Homo sapiens: one gene and its partners. The protein of the gene in region 2 purifies or fractionates together with the protein of the main gene of each other region. This does not show direct contact. Each region holds a gene or a part of one and is shown on either strand. Other genes may lie near its edges.

Region 1 (5,561 bases), about 18 Mb from region 2:
CATCTGCGTCACCCCAGGCCGCCATCCACGTCACCCCAGGCCACCATCCGCCCGACAGGCGCGCGTCACCCCAGGCCGCCATCCACCAGACAGGTGCGTGTCACCCCAGGCCGCCCTCCGCCTGACAGGCGCGTGTCATCCCAGGCCACCATCCGTGTCACCCCAGGCCGCCCTCCGCCCGACAGGCGTGCGTCACCCCAGGCCGGTGCTCCCTGAATCAGCTTGTGGCAGCCCCCACACGGCATGCTGCCCAGAGGCCAGCTCAGACCGGGTCACACAGGACTCTAACCTGGCCACACATCACATAATGTTTATGACAACTTTATAAGGCTAATTTGTTCATAAGAATTACTTGCCGGGCACAGTGGTTCACACCTGTAATCTTAGCACTTTGGGAGGCTGAGGTAGGTGGATCATTAAAGGTCAGGAGTTCGAGACCAGCCTGGCCGACATGAAACTCCTGTCTCTACTAAAAATATAAGAAATTAGCCAGGTGTGGTGGCAGACGCCTGTAATCCCAGCTACTCGGGAGGCTGAAGTAGGAGAATCACTTGAATCTGGGAGGTAGAGGTTGCAGTGAGCTGAGATCGCGCCACTGCACTCCAGCCTGGGTGACAGCAAGACTCAGTCTCAAAAAAAAAAAAAAAAAAGAATTACTTAAGTACTTGAGAAGGTGTGTCCCGTTGGGTAAGAATGAGGGAAGTGCTTTAAAAGGAAAACAAATATATTGCATTTTAAAAATAAATTTTTAATTTTAGAATGGTTTTAGATTTACAGAATTATTGTAAAAATAGTAAAAGCTCCCATATCTCACAGGCCCAGTTTTCCCATTAACATCTCACCATTAATAAGCCGGTGCTGGCTGGGTGCGGTGGCTCACGCCTGTAATCCCAGCACTTTGGGAGGCTGAGGCAGGCGGATCACAAGGTCAGGAGTTCGAGACCAGCCTGACCAACATGGTGAAACCCCATCTCTACTAAAAATACACAAATTAGCCAGATGTGGTGGCAGGCACCTGTAATCCCAGCTACTCGGGAGGCTGAGGCAGGAGAATCACTTGAACCCGAGAGGCGGAGGTTGCAGTGAGCCGAGATCACGCCACTACACTCCAGCCTGGGTGACACAGTGATACTCTGTCTCAAAAAATAAAATAAAATAAACATAAAAAATAAAAAATAAATAAGCCAGTGCTGCCACACAGCTGCTGAGGCCTACACTTCCTTCGCTCTCCCCTGATGTCCTTCCCCCTGCCCCGCCCCCAACAATCTCTTCCTGGAAGCCACATGGCATCTACTCGTTCTGTCTCTTCAGGCTCCCCGAGGCTGGGACGGTTTCTCAGACTCTCCTTGTCTCTGATGACCTGGATGGTTTGGAGGAGGCCTGGTCAGGAATTCTGTGGAATGTTCCTTAGTGAGATGGTCGACTATGCCTCTGCATGGCCGGGCTGGGGTCGTCGGGGTTGGGAGGATGGGGCAGCAGCCTCCCCGTCGGCCACGCCATGAACATGACCAGTGCATGCTGACCTGACCACTGGGCTTGGGGGTGTCTGCGGGCACCTCGGCTGCAGCGTCCTCCTCCCACTGCCCTCTCCGTGCTGCACGCCCAGGAAGGAGGTCAGGTCACCACGCGCAGCGCACAGCGGTGCCGGGAGCTCACGCCAGCTCCTGGAATGGGGGGATCTACCTCATTTACTGAAAACCTTCTGCAGGGAAGGTTGGTCTTGTTCCCTCTGTTTATTTACTCAATCACTTATATCACTATGGGCTCGTGGATGTTTATTTTCTACTCTGGGTTATATTCTAATACTACTTTATTATTTTGTTGCTCTTTGGCCACTGGGAGGCTCTTTCACTGGGACGCAATCCCGTGACTGTGGGGTTTTGTTTACAGAGCTCCTCACTTTCTGGAACTGCCAGGATCAGCTGATCCTGGGCATTTCCTGCCCCGGTGCTGGAATCAGCCATTTCTCCTCAGAGCCCTGGCCCCGTGGACTGGAGGGCACTAGGAACCAGGATCTGGGCCTGGGTGTGCTCACTGCTGCAAGCATAGCTGGTTCTAGGCCCCCTCAGCTTGTACAGCAACAAGATCTGTGTGTATCCATTAACCACTGCGCACACACTGTTTAACCATCTTTGTCTCTTCTGGGCTAAACGTGCAATGGTAATCCACCATCACAGCGGCCACTCCAACCTCGTCCCTCTGATTACCCGGAGACTCCCCTCCTCCTCCCTCCGATTACCCAGAGACTCCCCTCCTCCTCCCTCCGATTACCCAGAGACTGCCCTCCTCCTCCCTCCGATTACCCAGAGACTGCCCTCCTCCTCCGAGTACCCAGAGACTCCCCCGGAGACTCCCCTCCTCCTCCCTCCGATTACCCAGAGACTCCCCTCCTCCTCCCTCCGATTACCCAGAGACTGCCCTCCTCCTCCCTCCGATTACCCAGAGACTCCCCTCCTCCTCCCTCCGATTACCCAGAGACTGCCCTCCTCCTCCTTCCGATTACCCAGAGACTCCTCTCCTCCTCCTTCCGATTACCCAGAGACTCCCCTCCTCCTCCCTCTGATTACCCAGAGACTGCCCTCCTCCTCCTTCCAATTACCCAGAGACTCCCCTCCTCCTCCTTCCGATTACCCAGAGACTCCCCTCCTCCTCCCTCCGATTACCCAGAGACTCCCCTCCTCCTCCCTCTGATTACCCAGAGACTGCCCTCCTCCTCCTTCCGATTACCCAGAGACTCCCCTCCTCCTCCTTCCGATTACCCAGAGACTCCCCTCCTCCTCCCTCCGATTACCCAGAGACTCCCCTCTTTCTCCGATTACCCAGAGACTCCCCTCCTCCCTCCGATTACCCAGAGACTCCCCTCCTTCTCCAATTATTCAGAGACTCCCCTCCATCTCAGAGACTCCCCTCCTCCGATTACCCAGACTCCCCTCCTCCGATTACCCAGAGACTCCCCTCCTCCAATTACCCAGAGACTCCCCTCCTCCTCCCTCTGATTACCCAGAGACTCCCCTCCTTCTCTGATTATCCAGAGACTCCCCTCCCACAGCCATCATACACACCACAGTGACAGAGCTGCCAGTCAGCACCTCTGTGCAGCAAAACTTTATCGACTAGAGCAGCGTCTGTGCCATTCCTTTTGCCTCTGGCCTTATAGACACTGCTCATTTCCAAAGTTACTCAGCACCTTCCTCTGAACACCCTTCAGGAAGGTCACGGAATGCATCTGCAGTAGTTAAGATTCTTGTCAGTCGGCCTTCCCCGCCGGGACCCCCATCTCCTCAATGAATGTTTAAAATCTGCACACGGTCTGCTCGTGTTGTCCAGTTCTACAGGTTCGGACAAACGCAGTGTCATGTACCAACCAGGATGGTGCCACACAGAGTGGCCTCACTGCCATACGAATGCTGCATTCTACTATCCACTCTCCCCTTTCCCCGGGAAACAACTGATGTTTTCACTACCACATCATATTGCCTCTTCCAGAAGGTCATCGAGCTGAAATCACAGTGCGCGGCCTTCTCAACTGGCTCCTCTCACTTAGGAATGTGTATTTATAGAAACATGTATTTAAGGTTCCTCCCGGTCGCAGTGGCTTAATGCTCATTACTATCTTTTAGAGATGGGGTCTCACCCTGTTGCCCAGGCTGCAGTGCAGTGGCTCAATCACAGCTCGCTGCAACCTCTGCCTTCCGGGCTTGAGATCCCACTCAGCCTCTTGACAGGTGGGACCATGTGTGTGTGCTGTGACACTCGGCTAAGTTTTTTAGTTTGGTAGAGATGGGGTCTCAGTATGTTGCCCAGGCTGGTCTTGAACTCCTGGGCTCAAGCGATCCTCCTGCCTCAGCCTCCCAAACTGCTGGGATTATAAGCGTGAGCCACCATGCCTGGCCTGCATGCAGGTTTTTATGTGGACATAAGTTTTCAATTCAGTTGGATAAATATTCAGGAGCAAAACTGCTAGATTGCATGGTAAGAATCTATCTATCTATCTATATCTATATCTATATTTTTTGAGACAGAGTCTCGCACTGTTGCCCGGGCTGGAGTGCAATGTTGCGATCTCGGCTCACTGCAACCTCCGCCTCCTGGCCTCCCGAGTAGCTGGGATTATAGGTGCCTGCCACCATGCCAGGCTAATTTTTTGCATTTTTAGTAGAGACGGGGTTTCACTATGTTGGCTAGGCTTGTCTTGATCTCCTGACCTCGTGATCCACCTGCCTCAGCCTCCCAAAGTGCTGGGATGACAGGCGTGAACCACCACGTCCAGCCCAAGAATATATTTATATTTAGTTCTGTGAGAGTCTGTGAAACTGTCTTCTAAAGCGGCTTTAGCCTTTTGTATTCCCACCAGCAATGGGTGAGAGTTCCTGGAAGCGTTGGTACTGTCGGTTTTTAAGGTTTTAGCTGCTCCGTCGGGTATGCAGTGGCGTCTCCCTGTTTCCAGTTCCTGAAGGACAAATGATGCTGGGTATCCTCCCACCGCAATCTCCCGTCTGAATAACTTCCCTGGTGAACATCTGCTTAGACCTTTCACCCAGGTTTTGCTTTGTTTTGAGACAAAGTTTTGCCTTTGTCACCCAGGCTGGAGTGCAGTGGCCCCATCTCGGCTCACTGCAACCTCTGCCTCCTGGGTTCAAGTGATTCTCCTGCCTTAGCCTTCCGAGTGGGTGTCACCCAGGTTTGTGTTTGAAAGAGAGGGTCTTGCTCTGTTGCCTAGGCTGGAGTGCAGTGGTGTGATCTTGGCTCACTGCAGCCTTGACCTCCCGGGCTCAAGGGATCCTCCCACCTCAGACTCCTGAGTAGCTGGAACTGCAGGTGTGCACCACCACGCCTGGCTAATTTTTGTATTTTTTGTAGAGACGGGGTTTTGCCATGTGACACGGTTTCGCTGTGTCCCCACCCAAATCTCATCTTGAATTGTAATCCCCACGTGTGGAGGGAGGGAAGTGACTGGGTTATGGGGGCGGTTCCCCCATGCTGTTCTCATGTAGTGAGGGAGTCTCACGAGAGCTGATGGTTTTAGAAGCGGCAGTTTTGGCCGTGCGCGGTGGCTCACACCTGTAATCTCAGCACTTTGGGAGGCCGAGGTGGGCGGATCACTTGAGGCCAGGAGTTTCAGACCAACCTGGCCAACATGGTGAAACCTCGTCTCTATTAAAAAATACAAAAATTAGCCAGGCGAGGTGGCGCATGCCTGTAGTCCCAGCTACTCGGGAGGCTGAAGCAGGAGAATCGCTTGAACCCAGGAAGCGGAGGTTGCAGTGAGCCCCAAGATCATGCCACTGCACTCCAGCCTGGGCAACAGAGCAATACTCTGTCTCAAAAAAAAAAAAAAAAAAAAAAGAGTGGCAGTTTTTCCTGTGCCCGTTCTCAGTCTCTCCTGCCGCCTTTGTGAGGAAGGTGCCTGCTTCCCCTTTTGCCTTCCACAGTGATTGTACGTTTCCTGAGGCCTCCCCAGCAATTCGGAACTGTGAGTCGATGAACCTCTTTCTTTTGTAAATTACCCAGTCTTGGGTATTTCTTTATAGCAGTATGAAAACAGACTAATAGACCATGTT
Region 2 (5,247 bases):
GAAAAGGACGAGGGGAAGGAGAGGCTTTACTCCTTCTATTGATCCTGTGAGCAAGGAATTGCTTACATCACTTTGTGATTCTTCCACTTAACAGCACCTGGTCATACAATGTCATCCAGCATCAAGGAAAACTGGGATGTGGGTCTTTGTGCTGCTTTTATACTCTCAGAATTGTTATGTGACCGAAGAGGAAAATGAATATTGGGGCAATCTAGCAGTCTCTTCAGCCCTGATTGTCTCTGACTCTGTGCTCACATCAAGATTTTTCAGGAACTCCTCAGAAATAATGAATGATGGGGCAGAGAACAGAACTGGAGCCTCATGCAGGGTTCCAGGGACCAGGGGCTGGTATTAGACTTGCTCTTCGTGTTGTGAACTCAGGAAAACCCTTTAATTCTCTATGCCTTGGCTTCATCTTATGTTATATGAGGATAATACCATAGATGGTCTTTAAGGAACACAGGCTAAATGTTGGTGATACTACAGGGAAAATGACAGGTATGACTTAGTCCTTATGGAGCTTTGGTTTTCATGAGGAAGACAAACATATCATACCATAAATATAGATAGAGAAACTCTTTAGTGCCCTGAGTGTGGATAACAGAGGCTCTCCTTTTCCTCCCATTTCCTTTCTGGGCCAATCAGGGCTGTGGCACCTTGCCCCTCTAAGAGAGCTCATGATGGATGCATTCACTCCTGATGCTTCTCTGTACTCCCAGCAAAGGGTGCATCTTCTGTCCACCAGGAGGCCTCCTGCCCCTGTGCATCCTCAGGATTCCAGAGCAAATGTGACCTCTGATAGGCAAAAAGGAACTCCTGAATTTATTCCTAAATGGCATTCACTCACCTCTATTTTGTTCCCTCTTTGATTTGCCTCTCCTTCTCTATGTGGAGTTTGCTTAGGTCAGTTTTTTTTTCAATCCACAATTTTGGCTGCCAACTTGGATTTAACTTGAGAATCACTCCTCTGCTTTACTCCCTGTAACATATATAATCGACACAGGGTGGTGCTGGGTATAAAGGGCTGCTCCAAGACTGGATTGTGAGTCAGACCTGCCGGACTCAAATTCATACTATGTAATACATAACCCCTGGGACAAATAATTCCCTTTCGTTGTGCTCCAATTGCATTATCTGCCATATGGGAATAATACCAATTCTTACCTCCTAGGCTCTTCGGGTGATTAAAAGAGACAATACCTTACAAACTCTCAATCAGCTGCTGTTATTCTCCCAGATTAGACCTAATCCTCATTCTCCAGTTGAAATCTGCATGAATCTCTCTCTTTACACTCCAAGCCCTACACATCGCCTATTTCCCCTCATGGACGCCTCTCATACAAATGTTTGCATCAACAAAGAAATGCTACCAAAGATCTCCTGAAAGAGAGAACCAAAAAGTTTACATTGTGTATACCCAGCAGAACACTTAGTAGTCCCCCATAGATATTTCCACACTTCAATTACCTCCGTCAGTTACACTCAGACCTCATCTTCACTTACTCTTTCCTCTGTTCTATTGCTGAGTAATTCAGCTCAGACCCACACCCTACCCAAACACTGTGTACAAAAATGCTTCTAGGTGTTCAGCAAAGCCACACTGAGTCTTCATTTCAAAGGCACATCAGTGGTCAATTTCAAGTTTTGGGCACACATCAAGAATTCTTCTCAACACAGATACAGCTTTCCACAAATAGAATTCTGATGAATTAAATTTTCTTCATCCAGTTATACGTGTGTGTTCTAATACCTTACATTGTGCTTTCATCTTTATTTTCCATTTCATCCAAATCTACCAGTACCATTAGTCTCATGCATGCATTCATTCATTGAATGAATGTATATGAAAAGCACAGTGTGCTGCTCATGGAAATAGGCACTGGGAGTATAAAATGTAAAATGTAGTCCTGTCTGCAATGACTGACACACTGAGTTATTTCTCACCCACCAGGCCCAGCCATTTTCACACTTATCCTAGCAAAGGTCACATTTTCCTCTAGTTCATAATGCATGGTCTTCCTTCCTGTCCATGGATGACCAGTCCTAGTCACGAGTGTGTCACAACCACCTCTTTGTGTATCTGAATTCCTCCACCTGAAAGAAAATTTCAGACCCAGGATAGATTAATCATCGGGTCCAAAGCCCTGGCCGGATGAGTGGGGGTGTTTTGATCCTAATGTTATTCCCATGTCAGCACAGAACTTGTGTGGCAGTAGAGAGATGTCAGGCTTCAGAGTCAACAAGAACTGGATTTCAAACTGGATTTGAGGACCCCCACCTTTGGTAAGTGACTTATTATCTGCGAGCCTCTGTTTCTCTCTTCTTTAAATGAGGACAGTAAATCCCATACGGCAGGGTGGTGGGGAGAATCAGAGATGATACAGCTGGTGATCACATCTGGTTTGTGTTCCCAGGGGCACCAGACTAGGGTTTCTGAGCATGGATCCAACCGTCCCAGTCTTCGGTACAAAACTGACACCAATCAACGGACGTGAGGAGACTCCTTGCTACAATCAGACCCTGAGCTTCACGGTGCTGACGTGCATCATTTCCCTTGTCGGACTGACAGGAAACGCGGTTGTGCTCTGGCTCCTGGGCTACCGCATGCGCAGGAACGCTGTCTCCATCTACATCCTCAACCTGGCCGCAGCAGACTTCCTCTTCCTCAGCTTCCAGATTATACGTTTGCCATTACGCCTCATCAATATCAGCCATCTCATCCGCAAAATCCTCGTTTCTGTGATGACCTTTCCCTACTTTACAGGCCTGAGTATGCTGAGCGCCATCAGCACCGAGCGCTGCCTGTCTGTTCTGTGGCCCATCTGGTACCGCTGCCGCCGCCCCACACACCTGTCAGCGGTCGTGTGTGTCCTGCTCTGGGGCCTGTCCCTGCTGTTTAGTATGCTGGAGTGGAGGTTCTGTGACTTCCTGTTTAGTGGTGCTGATTCTAGTTGGTGTGAAACGTCAGATTTCATCCCAGTCGCGTGGCTGATTTTTTTATGTGTGGTTCTCTGTGTTTCCAGCCTGGTCCTGCTGGTCAGGATCCTCTGTGGATCCCGGAAGATGCCGCTGACCAGGCTGTACGTGACCATCCTGCTCACAGTGCTGGTCTTCCTCCTCTGCGGCCTGCCCTTCGGCATTCTGGGGGCCCTAATTTACAGGATGCACCTGAATTTGGAAGTCTTATATTGTCATGTTTATCTGGTTTGCATGTCCCTGTCCTCTCTAAACAGTAGTGCCAACCCCATCATTTACTTCTTCGTGGGCTCCTTTAGGCAGCGTCAAAATAGGCAGAACCTGAAGCTGGTTCTCCAGAGGGCTCTGCAGGACAAGCCTGAGGTGGATAAAGGTGAAGGGCAGCTTCCTGAGGAAAGCCTGGAGCTGTCGGGAAGCAGATTGGGGCCATGAGGGAGAGCCTCTGCCCTGTCAGTCAGACGGGACTTTGAGAGCAACACTGTCCTGCCACCCTTGACAATTACATGCGTTTTTCTTAGCGTTTCGCCTCAGAAATGTCTCAGTGGTAACTCAAGGTCTTCAAATAAATGTTTATCTAACCTGACAGTTGCAGTTTTCACCCATGGAAAGCATTAGTCTGACAGTACAATGTTTGGATTCTCCTTGATATTACCAATACATTTTCCCTGTTATCTTGCACTGAATCTTTCCTACTGAACACTTTTTCTGCACTTTTCATTGTAATAAAAGGAGTTCCTGTCCACAACCCTAAAACTCTTCTTTATACTTGTTTCCTACCTGATAGTATCAAAAAGGAAGATTCCTTATTAATCTGTCAGACTATGTTCCCCTGAAAATCATGTTCCCTTCTATGACTGGAGGCATTACTGCAGTTGGAAGCTCAATTCTTAATAAGTGAGTTCTGCTACCTCTAAATTCCATTGAATTCTCAGATATAAAGCAAAATAATGTCCTTAGAGAGAGATTCTCCCTTCATAAAAACAGTCTTAGAAATTGGTTTTATGAATAGCCCTCTCCTGTCATTTGTCCACACATGGTCACACGTTGGCTTTGGTTTCTAGTAAAGACAATCGTGGCCCCTTCCCCTTGAGAACTGGTAAGTGCTTATTTAGCTCTTCCTGGACTAACGGACCAGTGAGGAGCCTATAAATACACCCCACCAGTTCCATTTTGGCCATTGGAAATTAAAATTGGTTTCAAACTGGAAATTATCTTGAAAACCATTTATTATTCATTTACAGAGTCTTTAAGTTGTAGGAGAATTCTTCATACTTTCAGGTTTTGTACAAATTGTTCTGGCTGTAACTTTCAGTTAATTTTATGGCTGTTAACATAAGAAGCAAAACTGAAAACATCTGACTTTTCCATGCTAATGTCAATTATAGTATCCGGATAATAACTTACAGTTGGTACAAAATTCTGATACATGCTGTGACTTAGATGAACACGGAAACATTGTGCTAAGGAAAATATGCCAGATACCAAAGAACAATATTGTATGGTCAAATTCTACGAGGTATCCAAACTAGGAAATTCGTGAACACAGAAAATAAATTAGAAGGATCCTGGTGCTGGATGATGGAGAGAATGTGTAGCCATTATTTAATGAGCACAGACTTTCTGTGTGGAATAATGCAAAGTTCTTAAAAGGGACAGTGGTAACGGTTACGACTTATTGTGAATGCACTTAATGACATTGAATTGTACAAATAAAATGGTGAAAGTTGTAAAATGTATGTTATGTGCATTTTACCACAATTAAAAACATTTAATTATAAAAACAGGATCAGTACAAAATTCAGGACTATTCTCCACCAGTGGTTATCCCTTCAACAGATAGCTCAAGCAGACAGAAGAGACCACCAAGAGAAGATGTGACATCACAGCAGGGTCTGTGCTGATCATAGACAGTGAGGCTGCCCCTCAGATTAACCCTCACTGAGGGGAGCTGACACATGCATTTTGAGTATACAGGAGACAGTACAAAGTAGCTATGAAAGCAATAAAGAGGTCTATAACAATAAACAGGTGTATAGTTTTCAATTTGTCCAACCAAATTTATTCGTGGCTCGTATCACATTGTTCACAATGTTGAACTCAGGTCCCCTGAGTGCAGATCCATTGCTCTTCCAGGCTCAGCACTCGCTGATGCTGAATCCTATCTGTCCACCCTCGATTTCCAAATGCCATAGTAGGACATAGCTGTAGGTAAGGGTTTCCTACAGGTTGGAGGAAGCAGGAAGGCAGTGTTTGCAGCCAATGCTCCACAAA
Region 3 (3,820 bases), on a different chromosome or scaffold from region 2:
GTACCCGGGCCAGACAAAGTTCTACACCAAGGACAACTAAAGCTACCAGCTCCATTCCCTACAAACAGACACACGGCAGCTGCTCGCGGGGGCCCCTGGCCACCCCTCAGGGTTCACACGCACCGTGCTGGCCCCCCAGGCCACAAGTGACGGTGGCTTTGAAGCAAACATCATGTGCTTCGCAGACAAAACCCCTCCGCCAACCCAGACCTCGCTTTCCTTCTCTACTCCCCCACCCACCCGTGTCCCTTTCAGTCCAGACACCAGAGGAAGGATGTGTGAAAGGAGCCAGGTAGTCAGCCAAGCCCACCCACAGCCCCCAACCACAGCACCTACCTCCAATGACCTCCACGAACTCTGGGCCGGCCATCGCCAGGAAGGGCACCTGAGCCTCCGTGGCCACCGCCTTGGCCAGCAGCGTCTTCCCACAGCCGGGGGGGCCGAGCAGCAGTGCGCCCTTTGGGACCTTGGCGCCAAGCTGGAGGAAGCGTTCTGGGCTCTGGACGGCAGCAGACAATGCAACACTAACTACTTGGGGATTCCGTTTTTTTGTTTTTTAGAGGTAAGGTCTCTCTGGGTCACGCAGGCTGGAGTGCAGTGGGTGCCATGATAGCTCACTGCAGCCTCAAACTCCTGGGTTCAAGCCACCCTCTCACCTCAGCCTCTCGAGTAGCTGGGAATATACAGGCATGTGGCACCACGCCCAGCTACTTTTAAAAACTTCTTGCAGGCCAGGTGCGGTGGCTCACACCTGGAATTCCAACATTTTGGGAGGCTGAGGCAGGCGCGTAGCTTGAGATCAGGAGTTTGAGACCAGCCTGGCCAACATGGAAAAACCCCGTCTCTACTAAAAATACAAAAATTAGCCGTGCATGGTGGTGGGCGCCTGTGATCCCTGCTACTCGGGAGGCTGAGGCAGGAGAATCACTTGAACTGGGGAGGTGGAGGTTGTAGTGAGCCGAGATTGTGCCACTGCACTCCAGCCTGAGTGACAAAGTGAGACTCTGTCTCGAAAAAAAAAATTAATTAAATAAAAAAATGTTTTGCAGAGACAGGGTCTCACTGTTGCCCAGGCTGATCTCCTACTCCTGGGCTCAGTCACTCCCCTGCCTCAGCGCCCCGAGGTGCCAGGACTACAGGCGTGACCCACTGTACCAGGCCTGCAGAGGGAACACATGTCAGCCCCTCGAGGTGCCAGGACTACAGGTGCGACCCACCGTACCAGGCCCGCGGAGGAAACGTGTAAGTGACGCACGTGATAGGCAGCTCATGCACTGCCACCAACTGGCTAAGGTGTTTATGTGGTTCTGGAAAAAGCACAGAGCTTTGCAAGGGATGAAGGGCCCAGGACGGCTAACGGCACAGTAGGCATGGGTCTTGGCAGCCTCTGCTTGGCTGAACCATGTGCACGAGGCTTGTGCTGCTGGTTGAACAGGCACCAGCACCTGCTTGGTGTCCCCATGGGACATGGTAGAGGTCACCGCCAACCCACGACACGTCATCGATGGAATTCCAGGTCCCGCAGGAGCCCTTCTGGGAGAGGAGGACGGCCGGCCTCTGCTCACACCTCCCTCCCGGCCCACGCTGCTTTCACCTTCAGATAATCCACAAACTCGCGGACTTCCAGTTTGGCTTCGTGCATTCCTGCCACGTCTTTGAAGCTGACTCCTTTCCCCATCTTCCCATCCACAATGGTGAAACGAGCCATTTTAAGCTGATTCTGTGCAGAAAGAACAAAGTGCAAGGAGCTGGGCGAAGTCAGGAAATCAGCAGCACGATGCCAGCGCTCAGCCCACGCACCTGAGCCGCCCCAACCCCACGTCTCCATCCTAGGATCCCAAGGCTTCACTCATGTCAGGCTGACGAGGCTCACAGTCAGTCTTCAAGCACAGAAGGGAAATGTTTCGTCATTAATTAGTAAGAAACTTATCTAGCAATTTGCTTTAAAAAAAATTACTCAGCCAGGCATGGTGGCTCACGCCTGTAATCCTAGCACTTTGGGAGGCCGAGATGGGCGGATCACGAGGTCAAGAGATCGAGACCACCCTGGCTAACACGGTGAAACCTGTCTCTACCAAAAATACAAAAAAATTAGCTGGGTGTGGTGGCAGGCACCTGTAGTCACAGCTACTTGGAAGGCTGAAGCAGGAGAATCGCTTGAACCCAGGAGGCAGAGGTTGCAGTGAGCTGAGATCGCACCACTGCACTCCAGCCTGGGCAACAGAGCCAGACTCTGTCACACACACACACACACAAAAAAGAAAGGCCAGGTGCAGTGGCTCATGCCTATAATCCCAGCACTTTGGGAGGCTGAGGCGGGAGGATCACCTGAGGTCGGGAGTTCGAGACCAGCCTGAACAACATGGAGAAACCCCGTCTCTACCAAAAATACAAAATTAGCTGGACGTGGTGGCGCGTGCCTGTAATCCCAGCTACTCGGGAAGCTGAGGCAGGAGAATTGCTTGAATGCGGGAGGTGCAAGTTGCGGTGAGCTGAGATCGCACGGCTGCACTCCAGCCTGGGCAAGAAGGGCGAAACTCCGTCTCAAAAAAAAAGAAAAGAAAAACGCAGATTCAACTGCCCTGTAATCTCACAAGGCTCAGGCACCCCAGAGTTAGGGGTGAGAGGCCCTCAGGCAACATTGGTTACTACACGCCTTACAGCCGGACCATGGGAAAGGAAGGTGAGCTGCTGTCTAATTGTGGCTTCAGGCTACTCTCTGCAACAGGTTTTCCCTGTGTATTCATCGTATAGCTTATGGGAAAAGTATTCAGCAAACACAAACCAGAAAGAGTTCAGAGAGCTCTGATTTACAGAACTTACAAAAGCACTGAATCCACCTTCCCTTCCAGTCATCCCGGCCAGACGGAAAACATACCACAGGATGGCCAGGCCCACTGCCGTCATCCCCACAGAGTACAGGGCACTGCCGGAAGAAAGAGAGGCAGGCACAGGCTCAGACGGTGTCACGTGACAGACGCAGGCTTCCAAATCAGAACCACTGCTGGCAATGTTTCCAAGATGAGACGAGGAATCCCTACGTCTGGGACCGATGCGCAGATTAAAATGGTTGTGGAAATGGGTTCTCTCGTCTCATTCTCGCTGACTGTGCTTTTTCATGAAAGCTTCCCAAATGGTCAGACTGAGTGTGCAGATGCCGGAGATCTAGCCAGCCTTGTGACAATAACAACGTTCAGGTTTTTCTATTTTCAGTATATTTTGTTTTCAAATGTAAGCGATCAGCTTCAATCAGGCAGGCAAGATCAGCCTAAGAGTAAAAAGCAAATCTCAGGCCGGGCGCGGTGGCTCACGCCTGTAATCCTAGCACTTTGGGAGGCCGTGGCGGGTGAATCACAAGGTCAGGAGTTTGAGACCAGCCTGGCCAACATGGTAAAACCCCATATCTACTAAAAAAATACAAAAATTAGCTGGACATGGTGGCATGCGTCTGCAATCCCAGCTACTTGGGAGGCTGAGGCAGGAGAAATGCTTGAACCTAGGAGGTGAAGGCTGCAGTGAGTCAAGATCGTGCCACTGAACTCCAGCCTGAGCTACAGAGCAAGACTCCATCTCAAAAAGAAAAGAAAAATGTAAGAATAAACCCTGTGTCTACTAAAAATACAAAAAAACTTAGCTGGATGTGGTGGTGTGCATCTGTAGTCCCAGCTACTCAGGAGGCTGAGGTGGGAGAATCACTGATCCTGGGAGGTCGAGGCTGCAGTAAGCTGAGATTGCACCACTGCACTCCAGCCTGGGCGACAGAGTGAGACCCTGACTCCAAAAAAAAAAAAAAAAAAAAGCAAATCCCAGGACTTTTGCC
Region 4 (5,561 bases), on a different chromosome or scaffold from region 2:
ACGAGGGCCACAGCCCAGCTGCCCAGCCCCCAGAGAATCCTGAGGGCCTGGAAAAGAATGAGGCAGCACCCAGCAATGCCACCCCCAATTCAGACCAATAGAAACAGGGCAGAGACACCCAAAGACAGGGACTAGAATGCTCATAGCAGCCACATGCATAATAGTGCAAAACAGCCAGGTGCAGTGGCTCACGCCTGTAATCCCAGCACTTTGGGAGGCCGAGGTAGGCGCATCACTTGAGATCAGGAGTTCGAGACCAGCCTGGCTAACATGGTGAAACCCCATCCCTACTAAAAATACAGAAATTAGCAGGGCATGATGGTACACTCCTGTCATCCCAGCTACTTGGGAAGCTGAGGCACGAGAACCCCTTGAACCCAGGAGGTGGAGGTTGCAGTGATCCGAAATCGTGACACTGCACTCCAGCCTGGGCAACAGAGTGAGACTCCAACTCAAAAAAAAAAAAAATTGTCCAAAACTGCAAACTACTCAAATGTCCACTAACAGCAGAAAAGATAAATTGTGGACAATGGAATACTAACATTGATAAAAACAAATACATTACTGCTGCCTGCACCTGCATGGGTGAACGTCAAAAACATGTTCAGCCAAAAAGAGCCAGAAATGAGTTCATACTGAATTATTCCGTTAATAGGAAGTTTGAACACAGGCAAAGTTAATCTATGCTGTTAGCAGCCAGATCAGGGGTTACCCTTGGGTTGGGGGGCAGGGGCTAAATAAGGTCTTGAGGGGGCTTCAGGGAGACGCAGTCTCGTTGCAGCTGACGTGATTCTGTTCAGTTTGCCCCAAATCATCAGACTATGTGCTCACAATATGCTTAATCCTTTGCGTATAAAAATCCATTTGACATAGGGTAGCATTCAACATTGCTAATATGGAAAACAGTAAACTTTTTTTTTTTTTGAGACACAGTCTTGCTCTGTCGTCCAGGCTGGAGTGCAGTGGCTCGATCTCAGCTCACTGCAACCTCCACCTCCCAGGTTCAAGCAATTCTTGTGCCTCAGCCTCCCAAGTAGCTGGGATTACAGGCGCCCACCATCACGCCTGGCTAATTTTTGTATTTTTAGTAGAGATGGGGTTTTGCCATGTTGGCCAGGCTGGTCTTGAACTCCTGACCTCAAGTGATCCACCCACCTCGGATTCCCAAAGTGCTGGGATTACAGGCGTGAGCCACCCTGCCCGGCCCTAATATGGAAAACTTCACATAAAACATTAAGTCAAAGAATGAAAGAGGAGAATGGTATTTCTAAGATAGTCCCTGCCATGCACCTTGAAGACAGCATTTAGTCAATATGCTCACAGCTGTCAGGCGGAACCTCACAGAGAATGGACTTCTGGGGTGAAGCTGGCAGCAAAGCAGCCAGAGAAAAAATTTTTAAAAATAATAATAATAATTATTATTATTATAATAATTATTATTATTATTATTTTCTTGAGATGGAGTCTCCCTCTGTCACACAGGCTAGAGTGCAGTGGTTCAATCATGGCCCACTACAGCCTCAACCTCCCGGGTCAGCCTCCCAAATAGCTGGAACTACAGACATGTACCACCACGCCTGGCTAATTTAAAAAAATTTTTTTTTTTTTTTTTTTTTTTTTGAGACAGAATCTCGCTTTTGTCGCCCAGGCTGGAGTGAGGTGGCACGATCTCGGCTCACTGCAAGCTCTGCCTCCTAGGCTCAAGCTATTCTCCTGTCTCAGCCTCCTGAGTAGCTGGGATTCCAGGCACCCATCACCACGCCTGGCTAATTTTTATACTTTTAGTAGAGATGGGGTTTTGCCATGTTGGCCAGTCTGGTCTCGAACTCCTGACCTCAGGTGATCCACCCGCCTCGGCCTCCCAAAGTCTTGGGACTACAGGCATGAGCCACTGCGCCCAGCCTTCACATTTTTTGGTAGAGATGGGTTCTTACTATGTTGTCCAGGCTTGTCTCAAACTCCTGACCTCAAGCAGTCCTCCTGCCTCAGCCTCCCAAACTGTTGGGATTAAAGGCGTGAGCCACTGCGCCAGGCTTATTATTTTATTTTATTTATTTATTTATTTATTTTTGAGATGGAGTTTCACTCTTGTCACCCAGGCTGGAGTGCAATGGCGTGATCTTGGCTCACTGCAACCTCCGCCTCCCAGGTTCAAGCGATTCTCCTGCCTCAGCCTCCTGAGTAGCTGGGATTACAGGCATGTGCCACCACGCCCCACTAATTTTGTATTTTCAGTAGAGACAGGGTTTCACCATGTTGGCCAGGCTAGTCTTGAACTCCTGACCTCAGCTGATCTGCCCGCCTTGGCCCCCCAAAGTGCTGGGATTACAGCGTGAGCCAGTGCACCCAGCCTCATTATTTTATTTTTTAACTTGATGTACTCTTCAACTTTTCATCATGAGCGTGCACTTCTTAATTTTGCAATAGGATTGTTGGCTCTTTACGGCTTGCCAGTGTTTCTCAAGATTTTTGTTTGTTTCTTTCTTTGATTGTTTGCTTTGTTAATGAGGCCCTCTGAGTCAGGCCCAAGTTGTCTTTCACAAGAATACTGTGATCCAGGCCCCCAGCCCCTTCTCCGGACCCAGGGGTCCAGATCCCAGCCCCTCCTCCCCCAGACACACGGGTCCAGGCCTCTAGCCCCTCCTCCCTCAGACTCAGGGGTCCAGGATCCCAGCCCCTCCTCCCTCAGACCCAGGAGCCCAGACCCCCAGGCCCTCCCCACCCAGACCCAGGAGCCTGGCCTTACAGTGACAGTGGCCAGCAGACCCTCTGGGACATTGGCCACGATGATGCCGATGAGGAAGATGACAGCCTCAAGCCAGGTGTATCCGAGAATGAGGGAGAGGATGAAGAAGGAGACACCCAGGAAGACAGCCACGCCGGTGATGAGCTGGATGAAGTGCTCAATCTCGATGGCGATGGGCGTCTTGCCCACCTCCAGCCCTGATGCCAGGGTGGCGATACGGCCCATGACAGTGCGGTCGCCCGTGGCCACCACCACGCCCCGAGCCGTGCCTGCAGGCCAGAGGGGTTAGGCTGAGGTGGGGTGGCTCAGGGAGGTTCTGGAGGCCTGACCCCCTGGGACACATCCCTGTGTCTGCCCCAGCTGTGTGTCTTCTCTGCACCCGCCTCACCTTCCACACAGTTGGTGGAAAAGAAGGTGATGTTCCGAGTCTCCAAGGGGTTGTCGTGAGTGCAGTCGGGAGAGCGAGTCTGGGGCTCGGATTCGCCAGTCAGGGAGGAGTTGTCCACCTGGGGGTAGGTGCAGCAGAGAGAGGGTTCAGTCCAGGGCCTGGGACAGGAGGGTATTTGTGTACAGGGCTTGGGGCTGAAGCCTGTGTGCCTGGAGATCACAGCTAGAAGCCTGGGTGCCCAGTGGGTGAGTGGTGTGTGGGAGGCCAGAGGCTGGGATCTTGAAGGTGGGGAAGGCACAGTGCTGCTGGCCAAGGTCTAGGGTCCCTAAGGATCTCCGAAAGGTGAGGGCTGGGCCTGGACTCCTGACTGTTGGGTGAGGAGGTGGCCCAGGGCCTAAACTCCTGGGTCTGAGGGAGGAGGGCCTGGGGGCCTGGACTCCTGGGTCTGAGGGAGGAGGGGTTGGGACCTGGACTCCTGAGTGTGAGGGAGGAGGGGCTGGGCCTGAGCTCCTGGGCAGCCCGAGGGAGGGTAAAGCCGGGCCCTAGGCCCAGGCCCACCTTGCAGCCGTGGGCTGAGATGATCCGCAGGTCAGCTGGCACTCGGTCTCCACCCTTGATCTCCACCAGGTCCCCGACCACCACCTCCTCAGCGTTCACCTGCATCTTCTCACCTTCCCGGATCACCAGGGCTTGCTGAGGTGGGATGGAGTAATGTCACCTCCCAGACTCCCTCTGCCTGGGGGTCACTGGGCCCGGCCCCCAGCCCATACACTAACACCCCCGTCTGGCCCCTTGCTGGGCACCCTTCACCTGGGGCACCATGTTCTTGAAGGACTCCATGATCTTGGAGCTCTTGGCCTCCTGGTAGTAGGAGAAGCAGCCAGTGATGATCACCACGGCCGCCAGCACGATGCCCAGGTACAGCTGTGGGGAGATGTGGGGATGTTGATCAGGGGCCGCCCAAGCCACTCTCCACCAGTCCCTGCTCGCCTGGAGTCTGGGAAGGGAGCTTTGTGTCAGTGGGGGTCTGTATTTGTGTGTCTGACCCTAGGTTGGTTATGAGGGTTGGTGTGTCTGAGTCTCCCCTGTTTGTGCTTGAGTCCCTCTTTCTGTAATGGTTGTGTTTGAATCTAAGGGTCTGTCGATTTTTTTTTTGAGACAGAGTCTCACTCTGTCGCCCAGGCTGGAGTGCAATGGCATGATCTTGGCTCACTGCAATCTCCGCCTCCTGGTTCAAGCGATCCTCCTGCCTCAGCCTCCTGAGTAGCTGGGACTACAGGTGCATGCCACCACACCTGGCTAATTTTGTGTATTTTTAGTAGAGATGGGGCTTCACCATGTTGGCTAGGATGGTCTTGATCTCCTGACCTTGTGATCTATCACCTTGGCCTCCCAAAGTGCTGGGATTACAGGTGTGAGCCATCTTTCCTGGCATTTTTTTTTTTTTTTTTTTTTGAGACAGGGTCTCGCTCTGCTGCCTAGGATGGAGTACAGTGGCACAATCTCAGTTCACTGTAGCCTCAACCTCCCAGATTCAAGCAATCCTCCCTCCTCAGCCTCCGGAGTAGCTAGGACTACAGGTGTGCGCCACCAGGCCCGGCTATGTTTTGTGTTTTTTTAGAGGCTGGGTCTGTCTGGGTATGTTACTCAGGCTACTGGAACTCCTGGTCTCAAGTTACCCTCCTGCCTTGGCCTCCCAAGGTGCTGGGATGACAGGCGTGAGCCACCATGCCCGACTTGTCCATCTGTTTTGTGTGTGTGTCTGTCCTCCTGCACATGTTGAGTCTGGGATGCGGCTGTCTGTCCATGTGTCTGTCTGACTGGCTGCATGCCTGACTTTACATTCTACAAGGCAGCTTCTTTGGTTCTCTGTGTGTGGATCTCTGTCTCTGTGTCTCCAGCTCTGCCTCTCTGTGAGAGCTTATGTCTAAGACTGTTTAGATTTGAACATCTGAGGACACTCTCTGTGCCTGACTCTCATGTCTCTCTGTCACCAGGTTATGCCTGCATTGCTGTGTGTGTGTGTGCGTGTCAGTGTGTGTGTGAGTTTCTCTGTCAGTGTATATCTGAGTCTGTGTCTGTGTTTCTGAATTAGGTGGCCATGTTTGAAACCACATCCTGGTGTGGCATCTGCGTTGACCCTCCGTGCACATGCGTGTGTGTGCACACACGCCTACCCAGGTGAGCAGCTCTGTGTGGCTGGTGTGTGGTCTGTGTTATGCGCATGGGATCTGAGGCTGCATCTCGAATGTGTCCCTGTGTTATGGGGATGGGCCCTGATGTATCAGCAGCGGGGTGTGCCTGGGTCTCTATGTGACACTCACTCTGGGTATCTGTCAAGCCATGACCACCTGCTGGTGTCTGTTCTCAAGGCCGCTGAGGTCACACAGCCTTGGGACAGAGCCCCGGCTCACACATCCTGCTGTG

What was found.
Region 1: the proteins of MRGPRX4 (region 2) and PTDSS2 purify together in Homo sapiens (affinity purification with mass spectrometry; one large-scale study listed by BioGRID and IntAct). This does not show direct contact.
Region 3: the proteins of MRGPRX4 (region 2) and SPG7 purify together in Homo sapiens (affinity purification with mass spectrometry; one large-scale study listed by BioGRID and IntAct). This does not show direct contact.
Region 4: the proteins of MRGPRX4 (region 2) and ATP1A3 purify together in Homo sapiens (affinity purification with mass spectrometry; one large-scale study listed by BioGRID and IntAct). This does not show direct contact.

Annotation. Positions count from the first base shown.
Region 1 is NC_000011.10:466,187-471,747, reverse strand, and holds part of PTDSS2 (phosphatidylserine synthase 2), read right to left. Parts: intron 1-5,561. UniProt on the Homo sapiens protein: Catalyzes a base-exchange reaction in which the polar head group of phosphatidylethanolamine (PE) or phosphatidylcholine (PC) is replaced by L-serine. Catalyzes the conversion of phosphatatidylethanolamine and does not act on phosphatidylcholine.
Region 2 is NC_000011.10:18,170,818-18,176,064, forward strand, and holds MRGPRX4 (mas-related G-protein coupled receptor member X4), read left to right. Parts: upstream 1-2,019; 5' UTR 2,020-2,439; coding exon 2,440-3,408; 3' UTR 3,409-3,463; downstream 3,464-5,247. UniProt on the Homo sapiens protein: Orphan receptor. Probably involved in the function of nociceptive neurons. May regulate nociceptor function and/or development, including the sensation or modulation of pain. Potently activated by enkephalins.
Region 3 is NC_000016.10:89,528,583-89,532,402, reverse strand, and holds part of SPG7 (mitochondrial inner membrane m-AAA protease component paraplegin isoform 1 precursor), read right to left. Parts: intron 2,927-3,820; coding exon 2,824-2,926; intron 1,721-2,823; coding exon 1,595-1,720; intron 500-1,594; coding exon 337-499; intron 1-336. UniProt on the Homo sapiens protein: Catalytic component of the m-AAA protease, a protease that plays a key role in proteostasis of inner mitochondrial membrane proteins, and which is essential for axonal and neuron development.
Region 4 is NC_000019.10:41,982,172-41,987,732, forward strand, and holds part of ATP1A3 (sodium/potassium-transporting ATPase subunit alpha-3), read right to left. Parts: intron 4,059-5,561; coding exon 3,945-4,058; intron 3,828-3,944; coding exon 3,693-3,827; intron 3,253-3,692; coding exon 3,135-3,252; intron 3,016-3,134; coding exon 2,747-3,015; intron 1-2,746. UniProt on the Homo sapiens protein: This is the catalytic component of the active enzyme, which catalyzes the hydrolysis of ATP coupled with the exchange of sodium and potassium ions across the plasma membrane.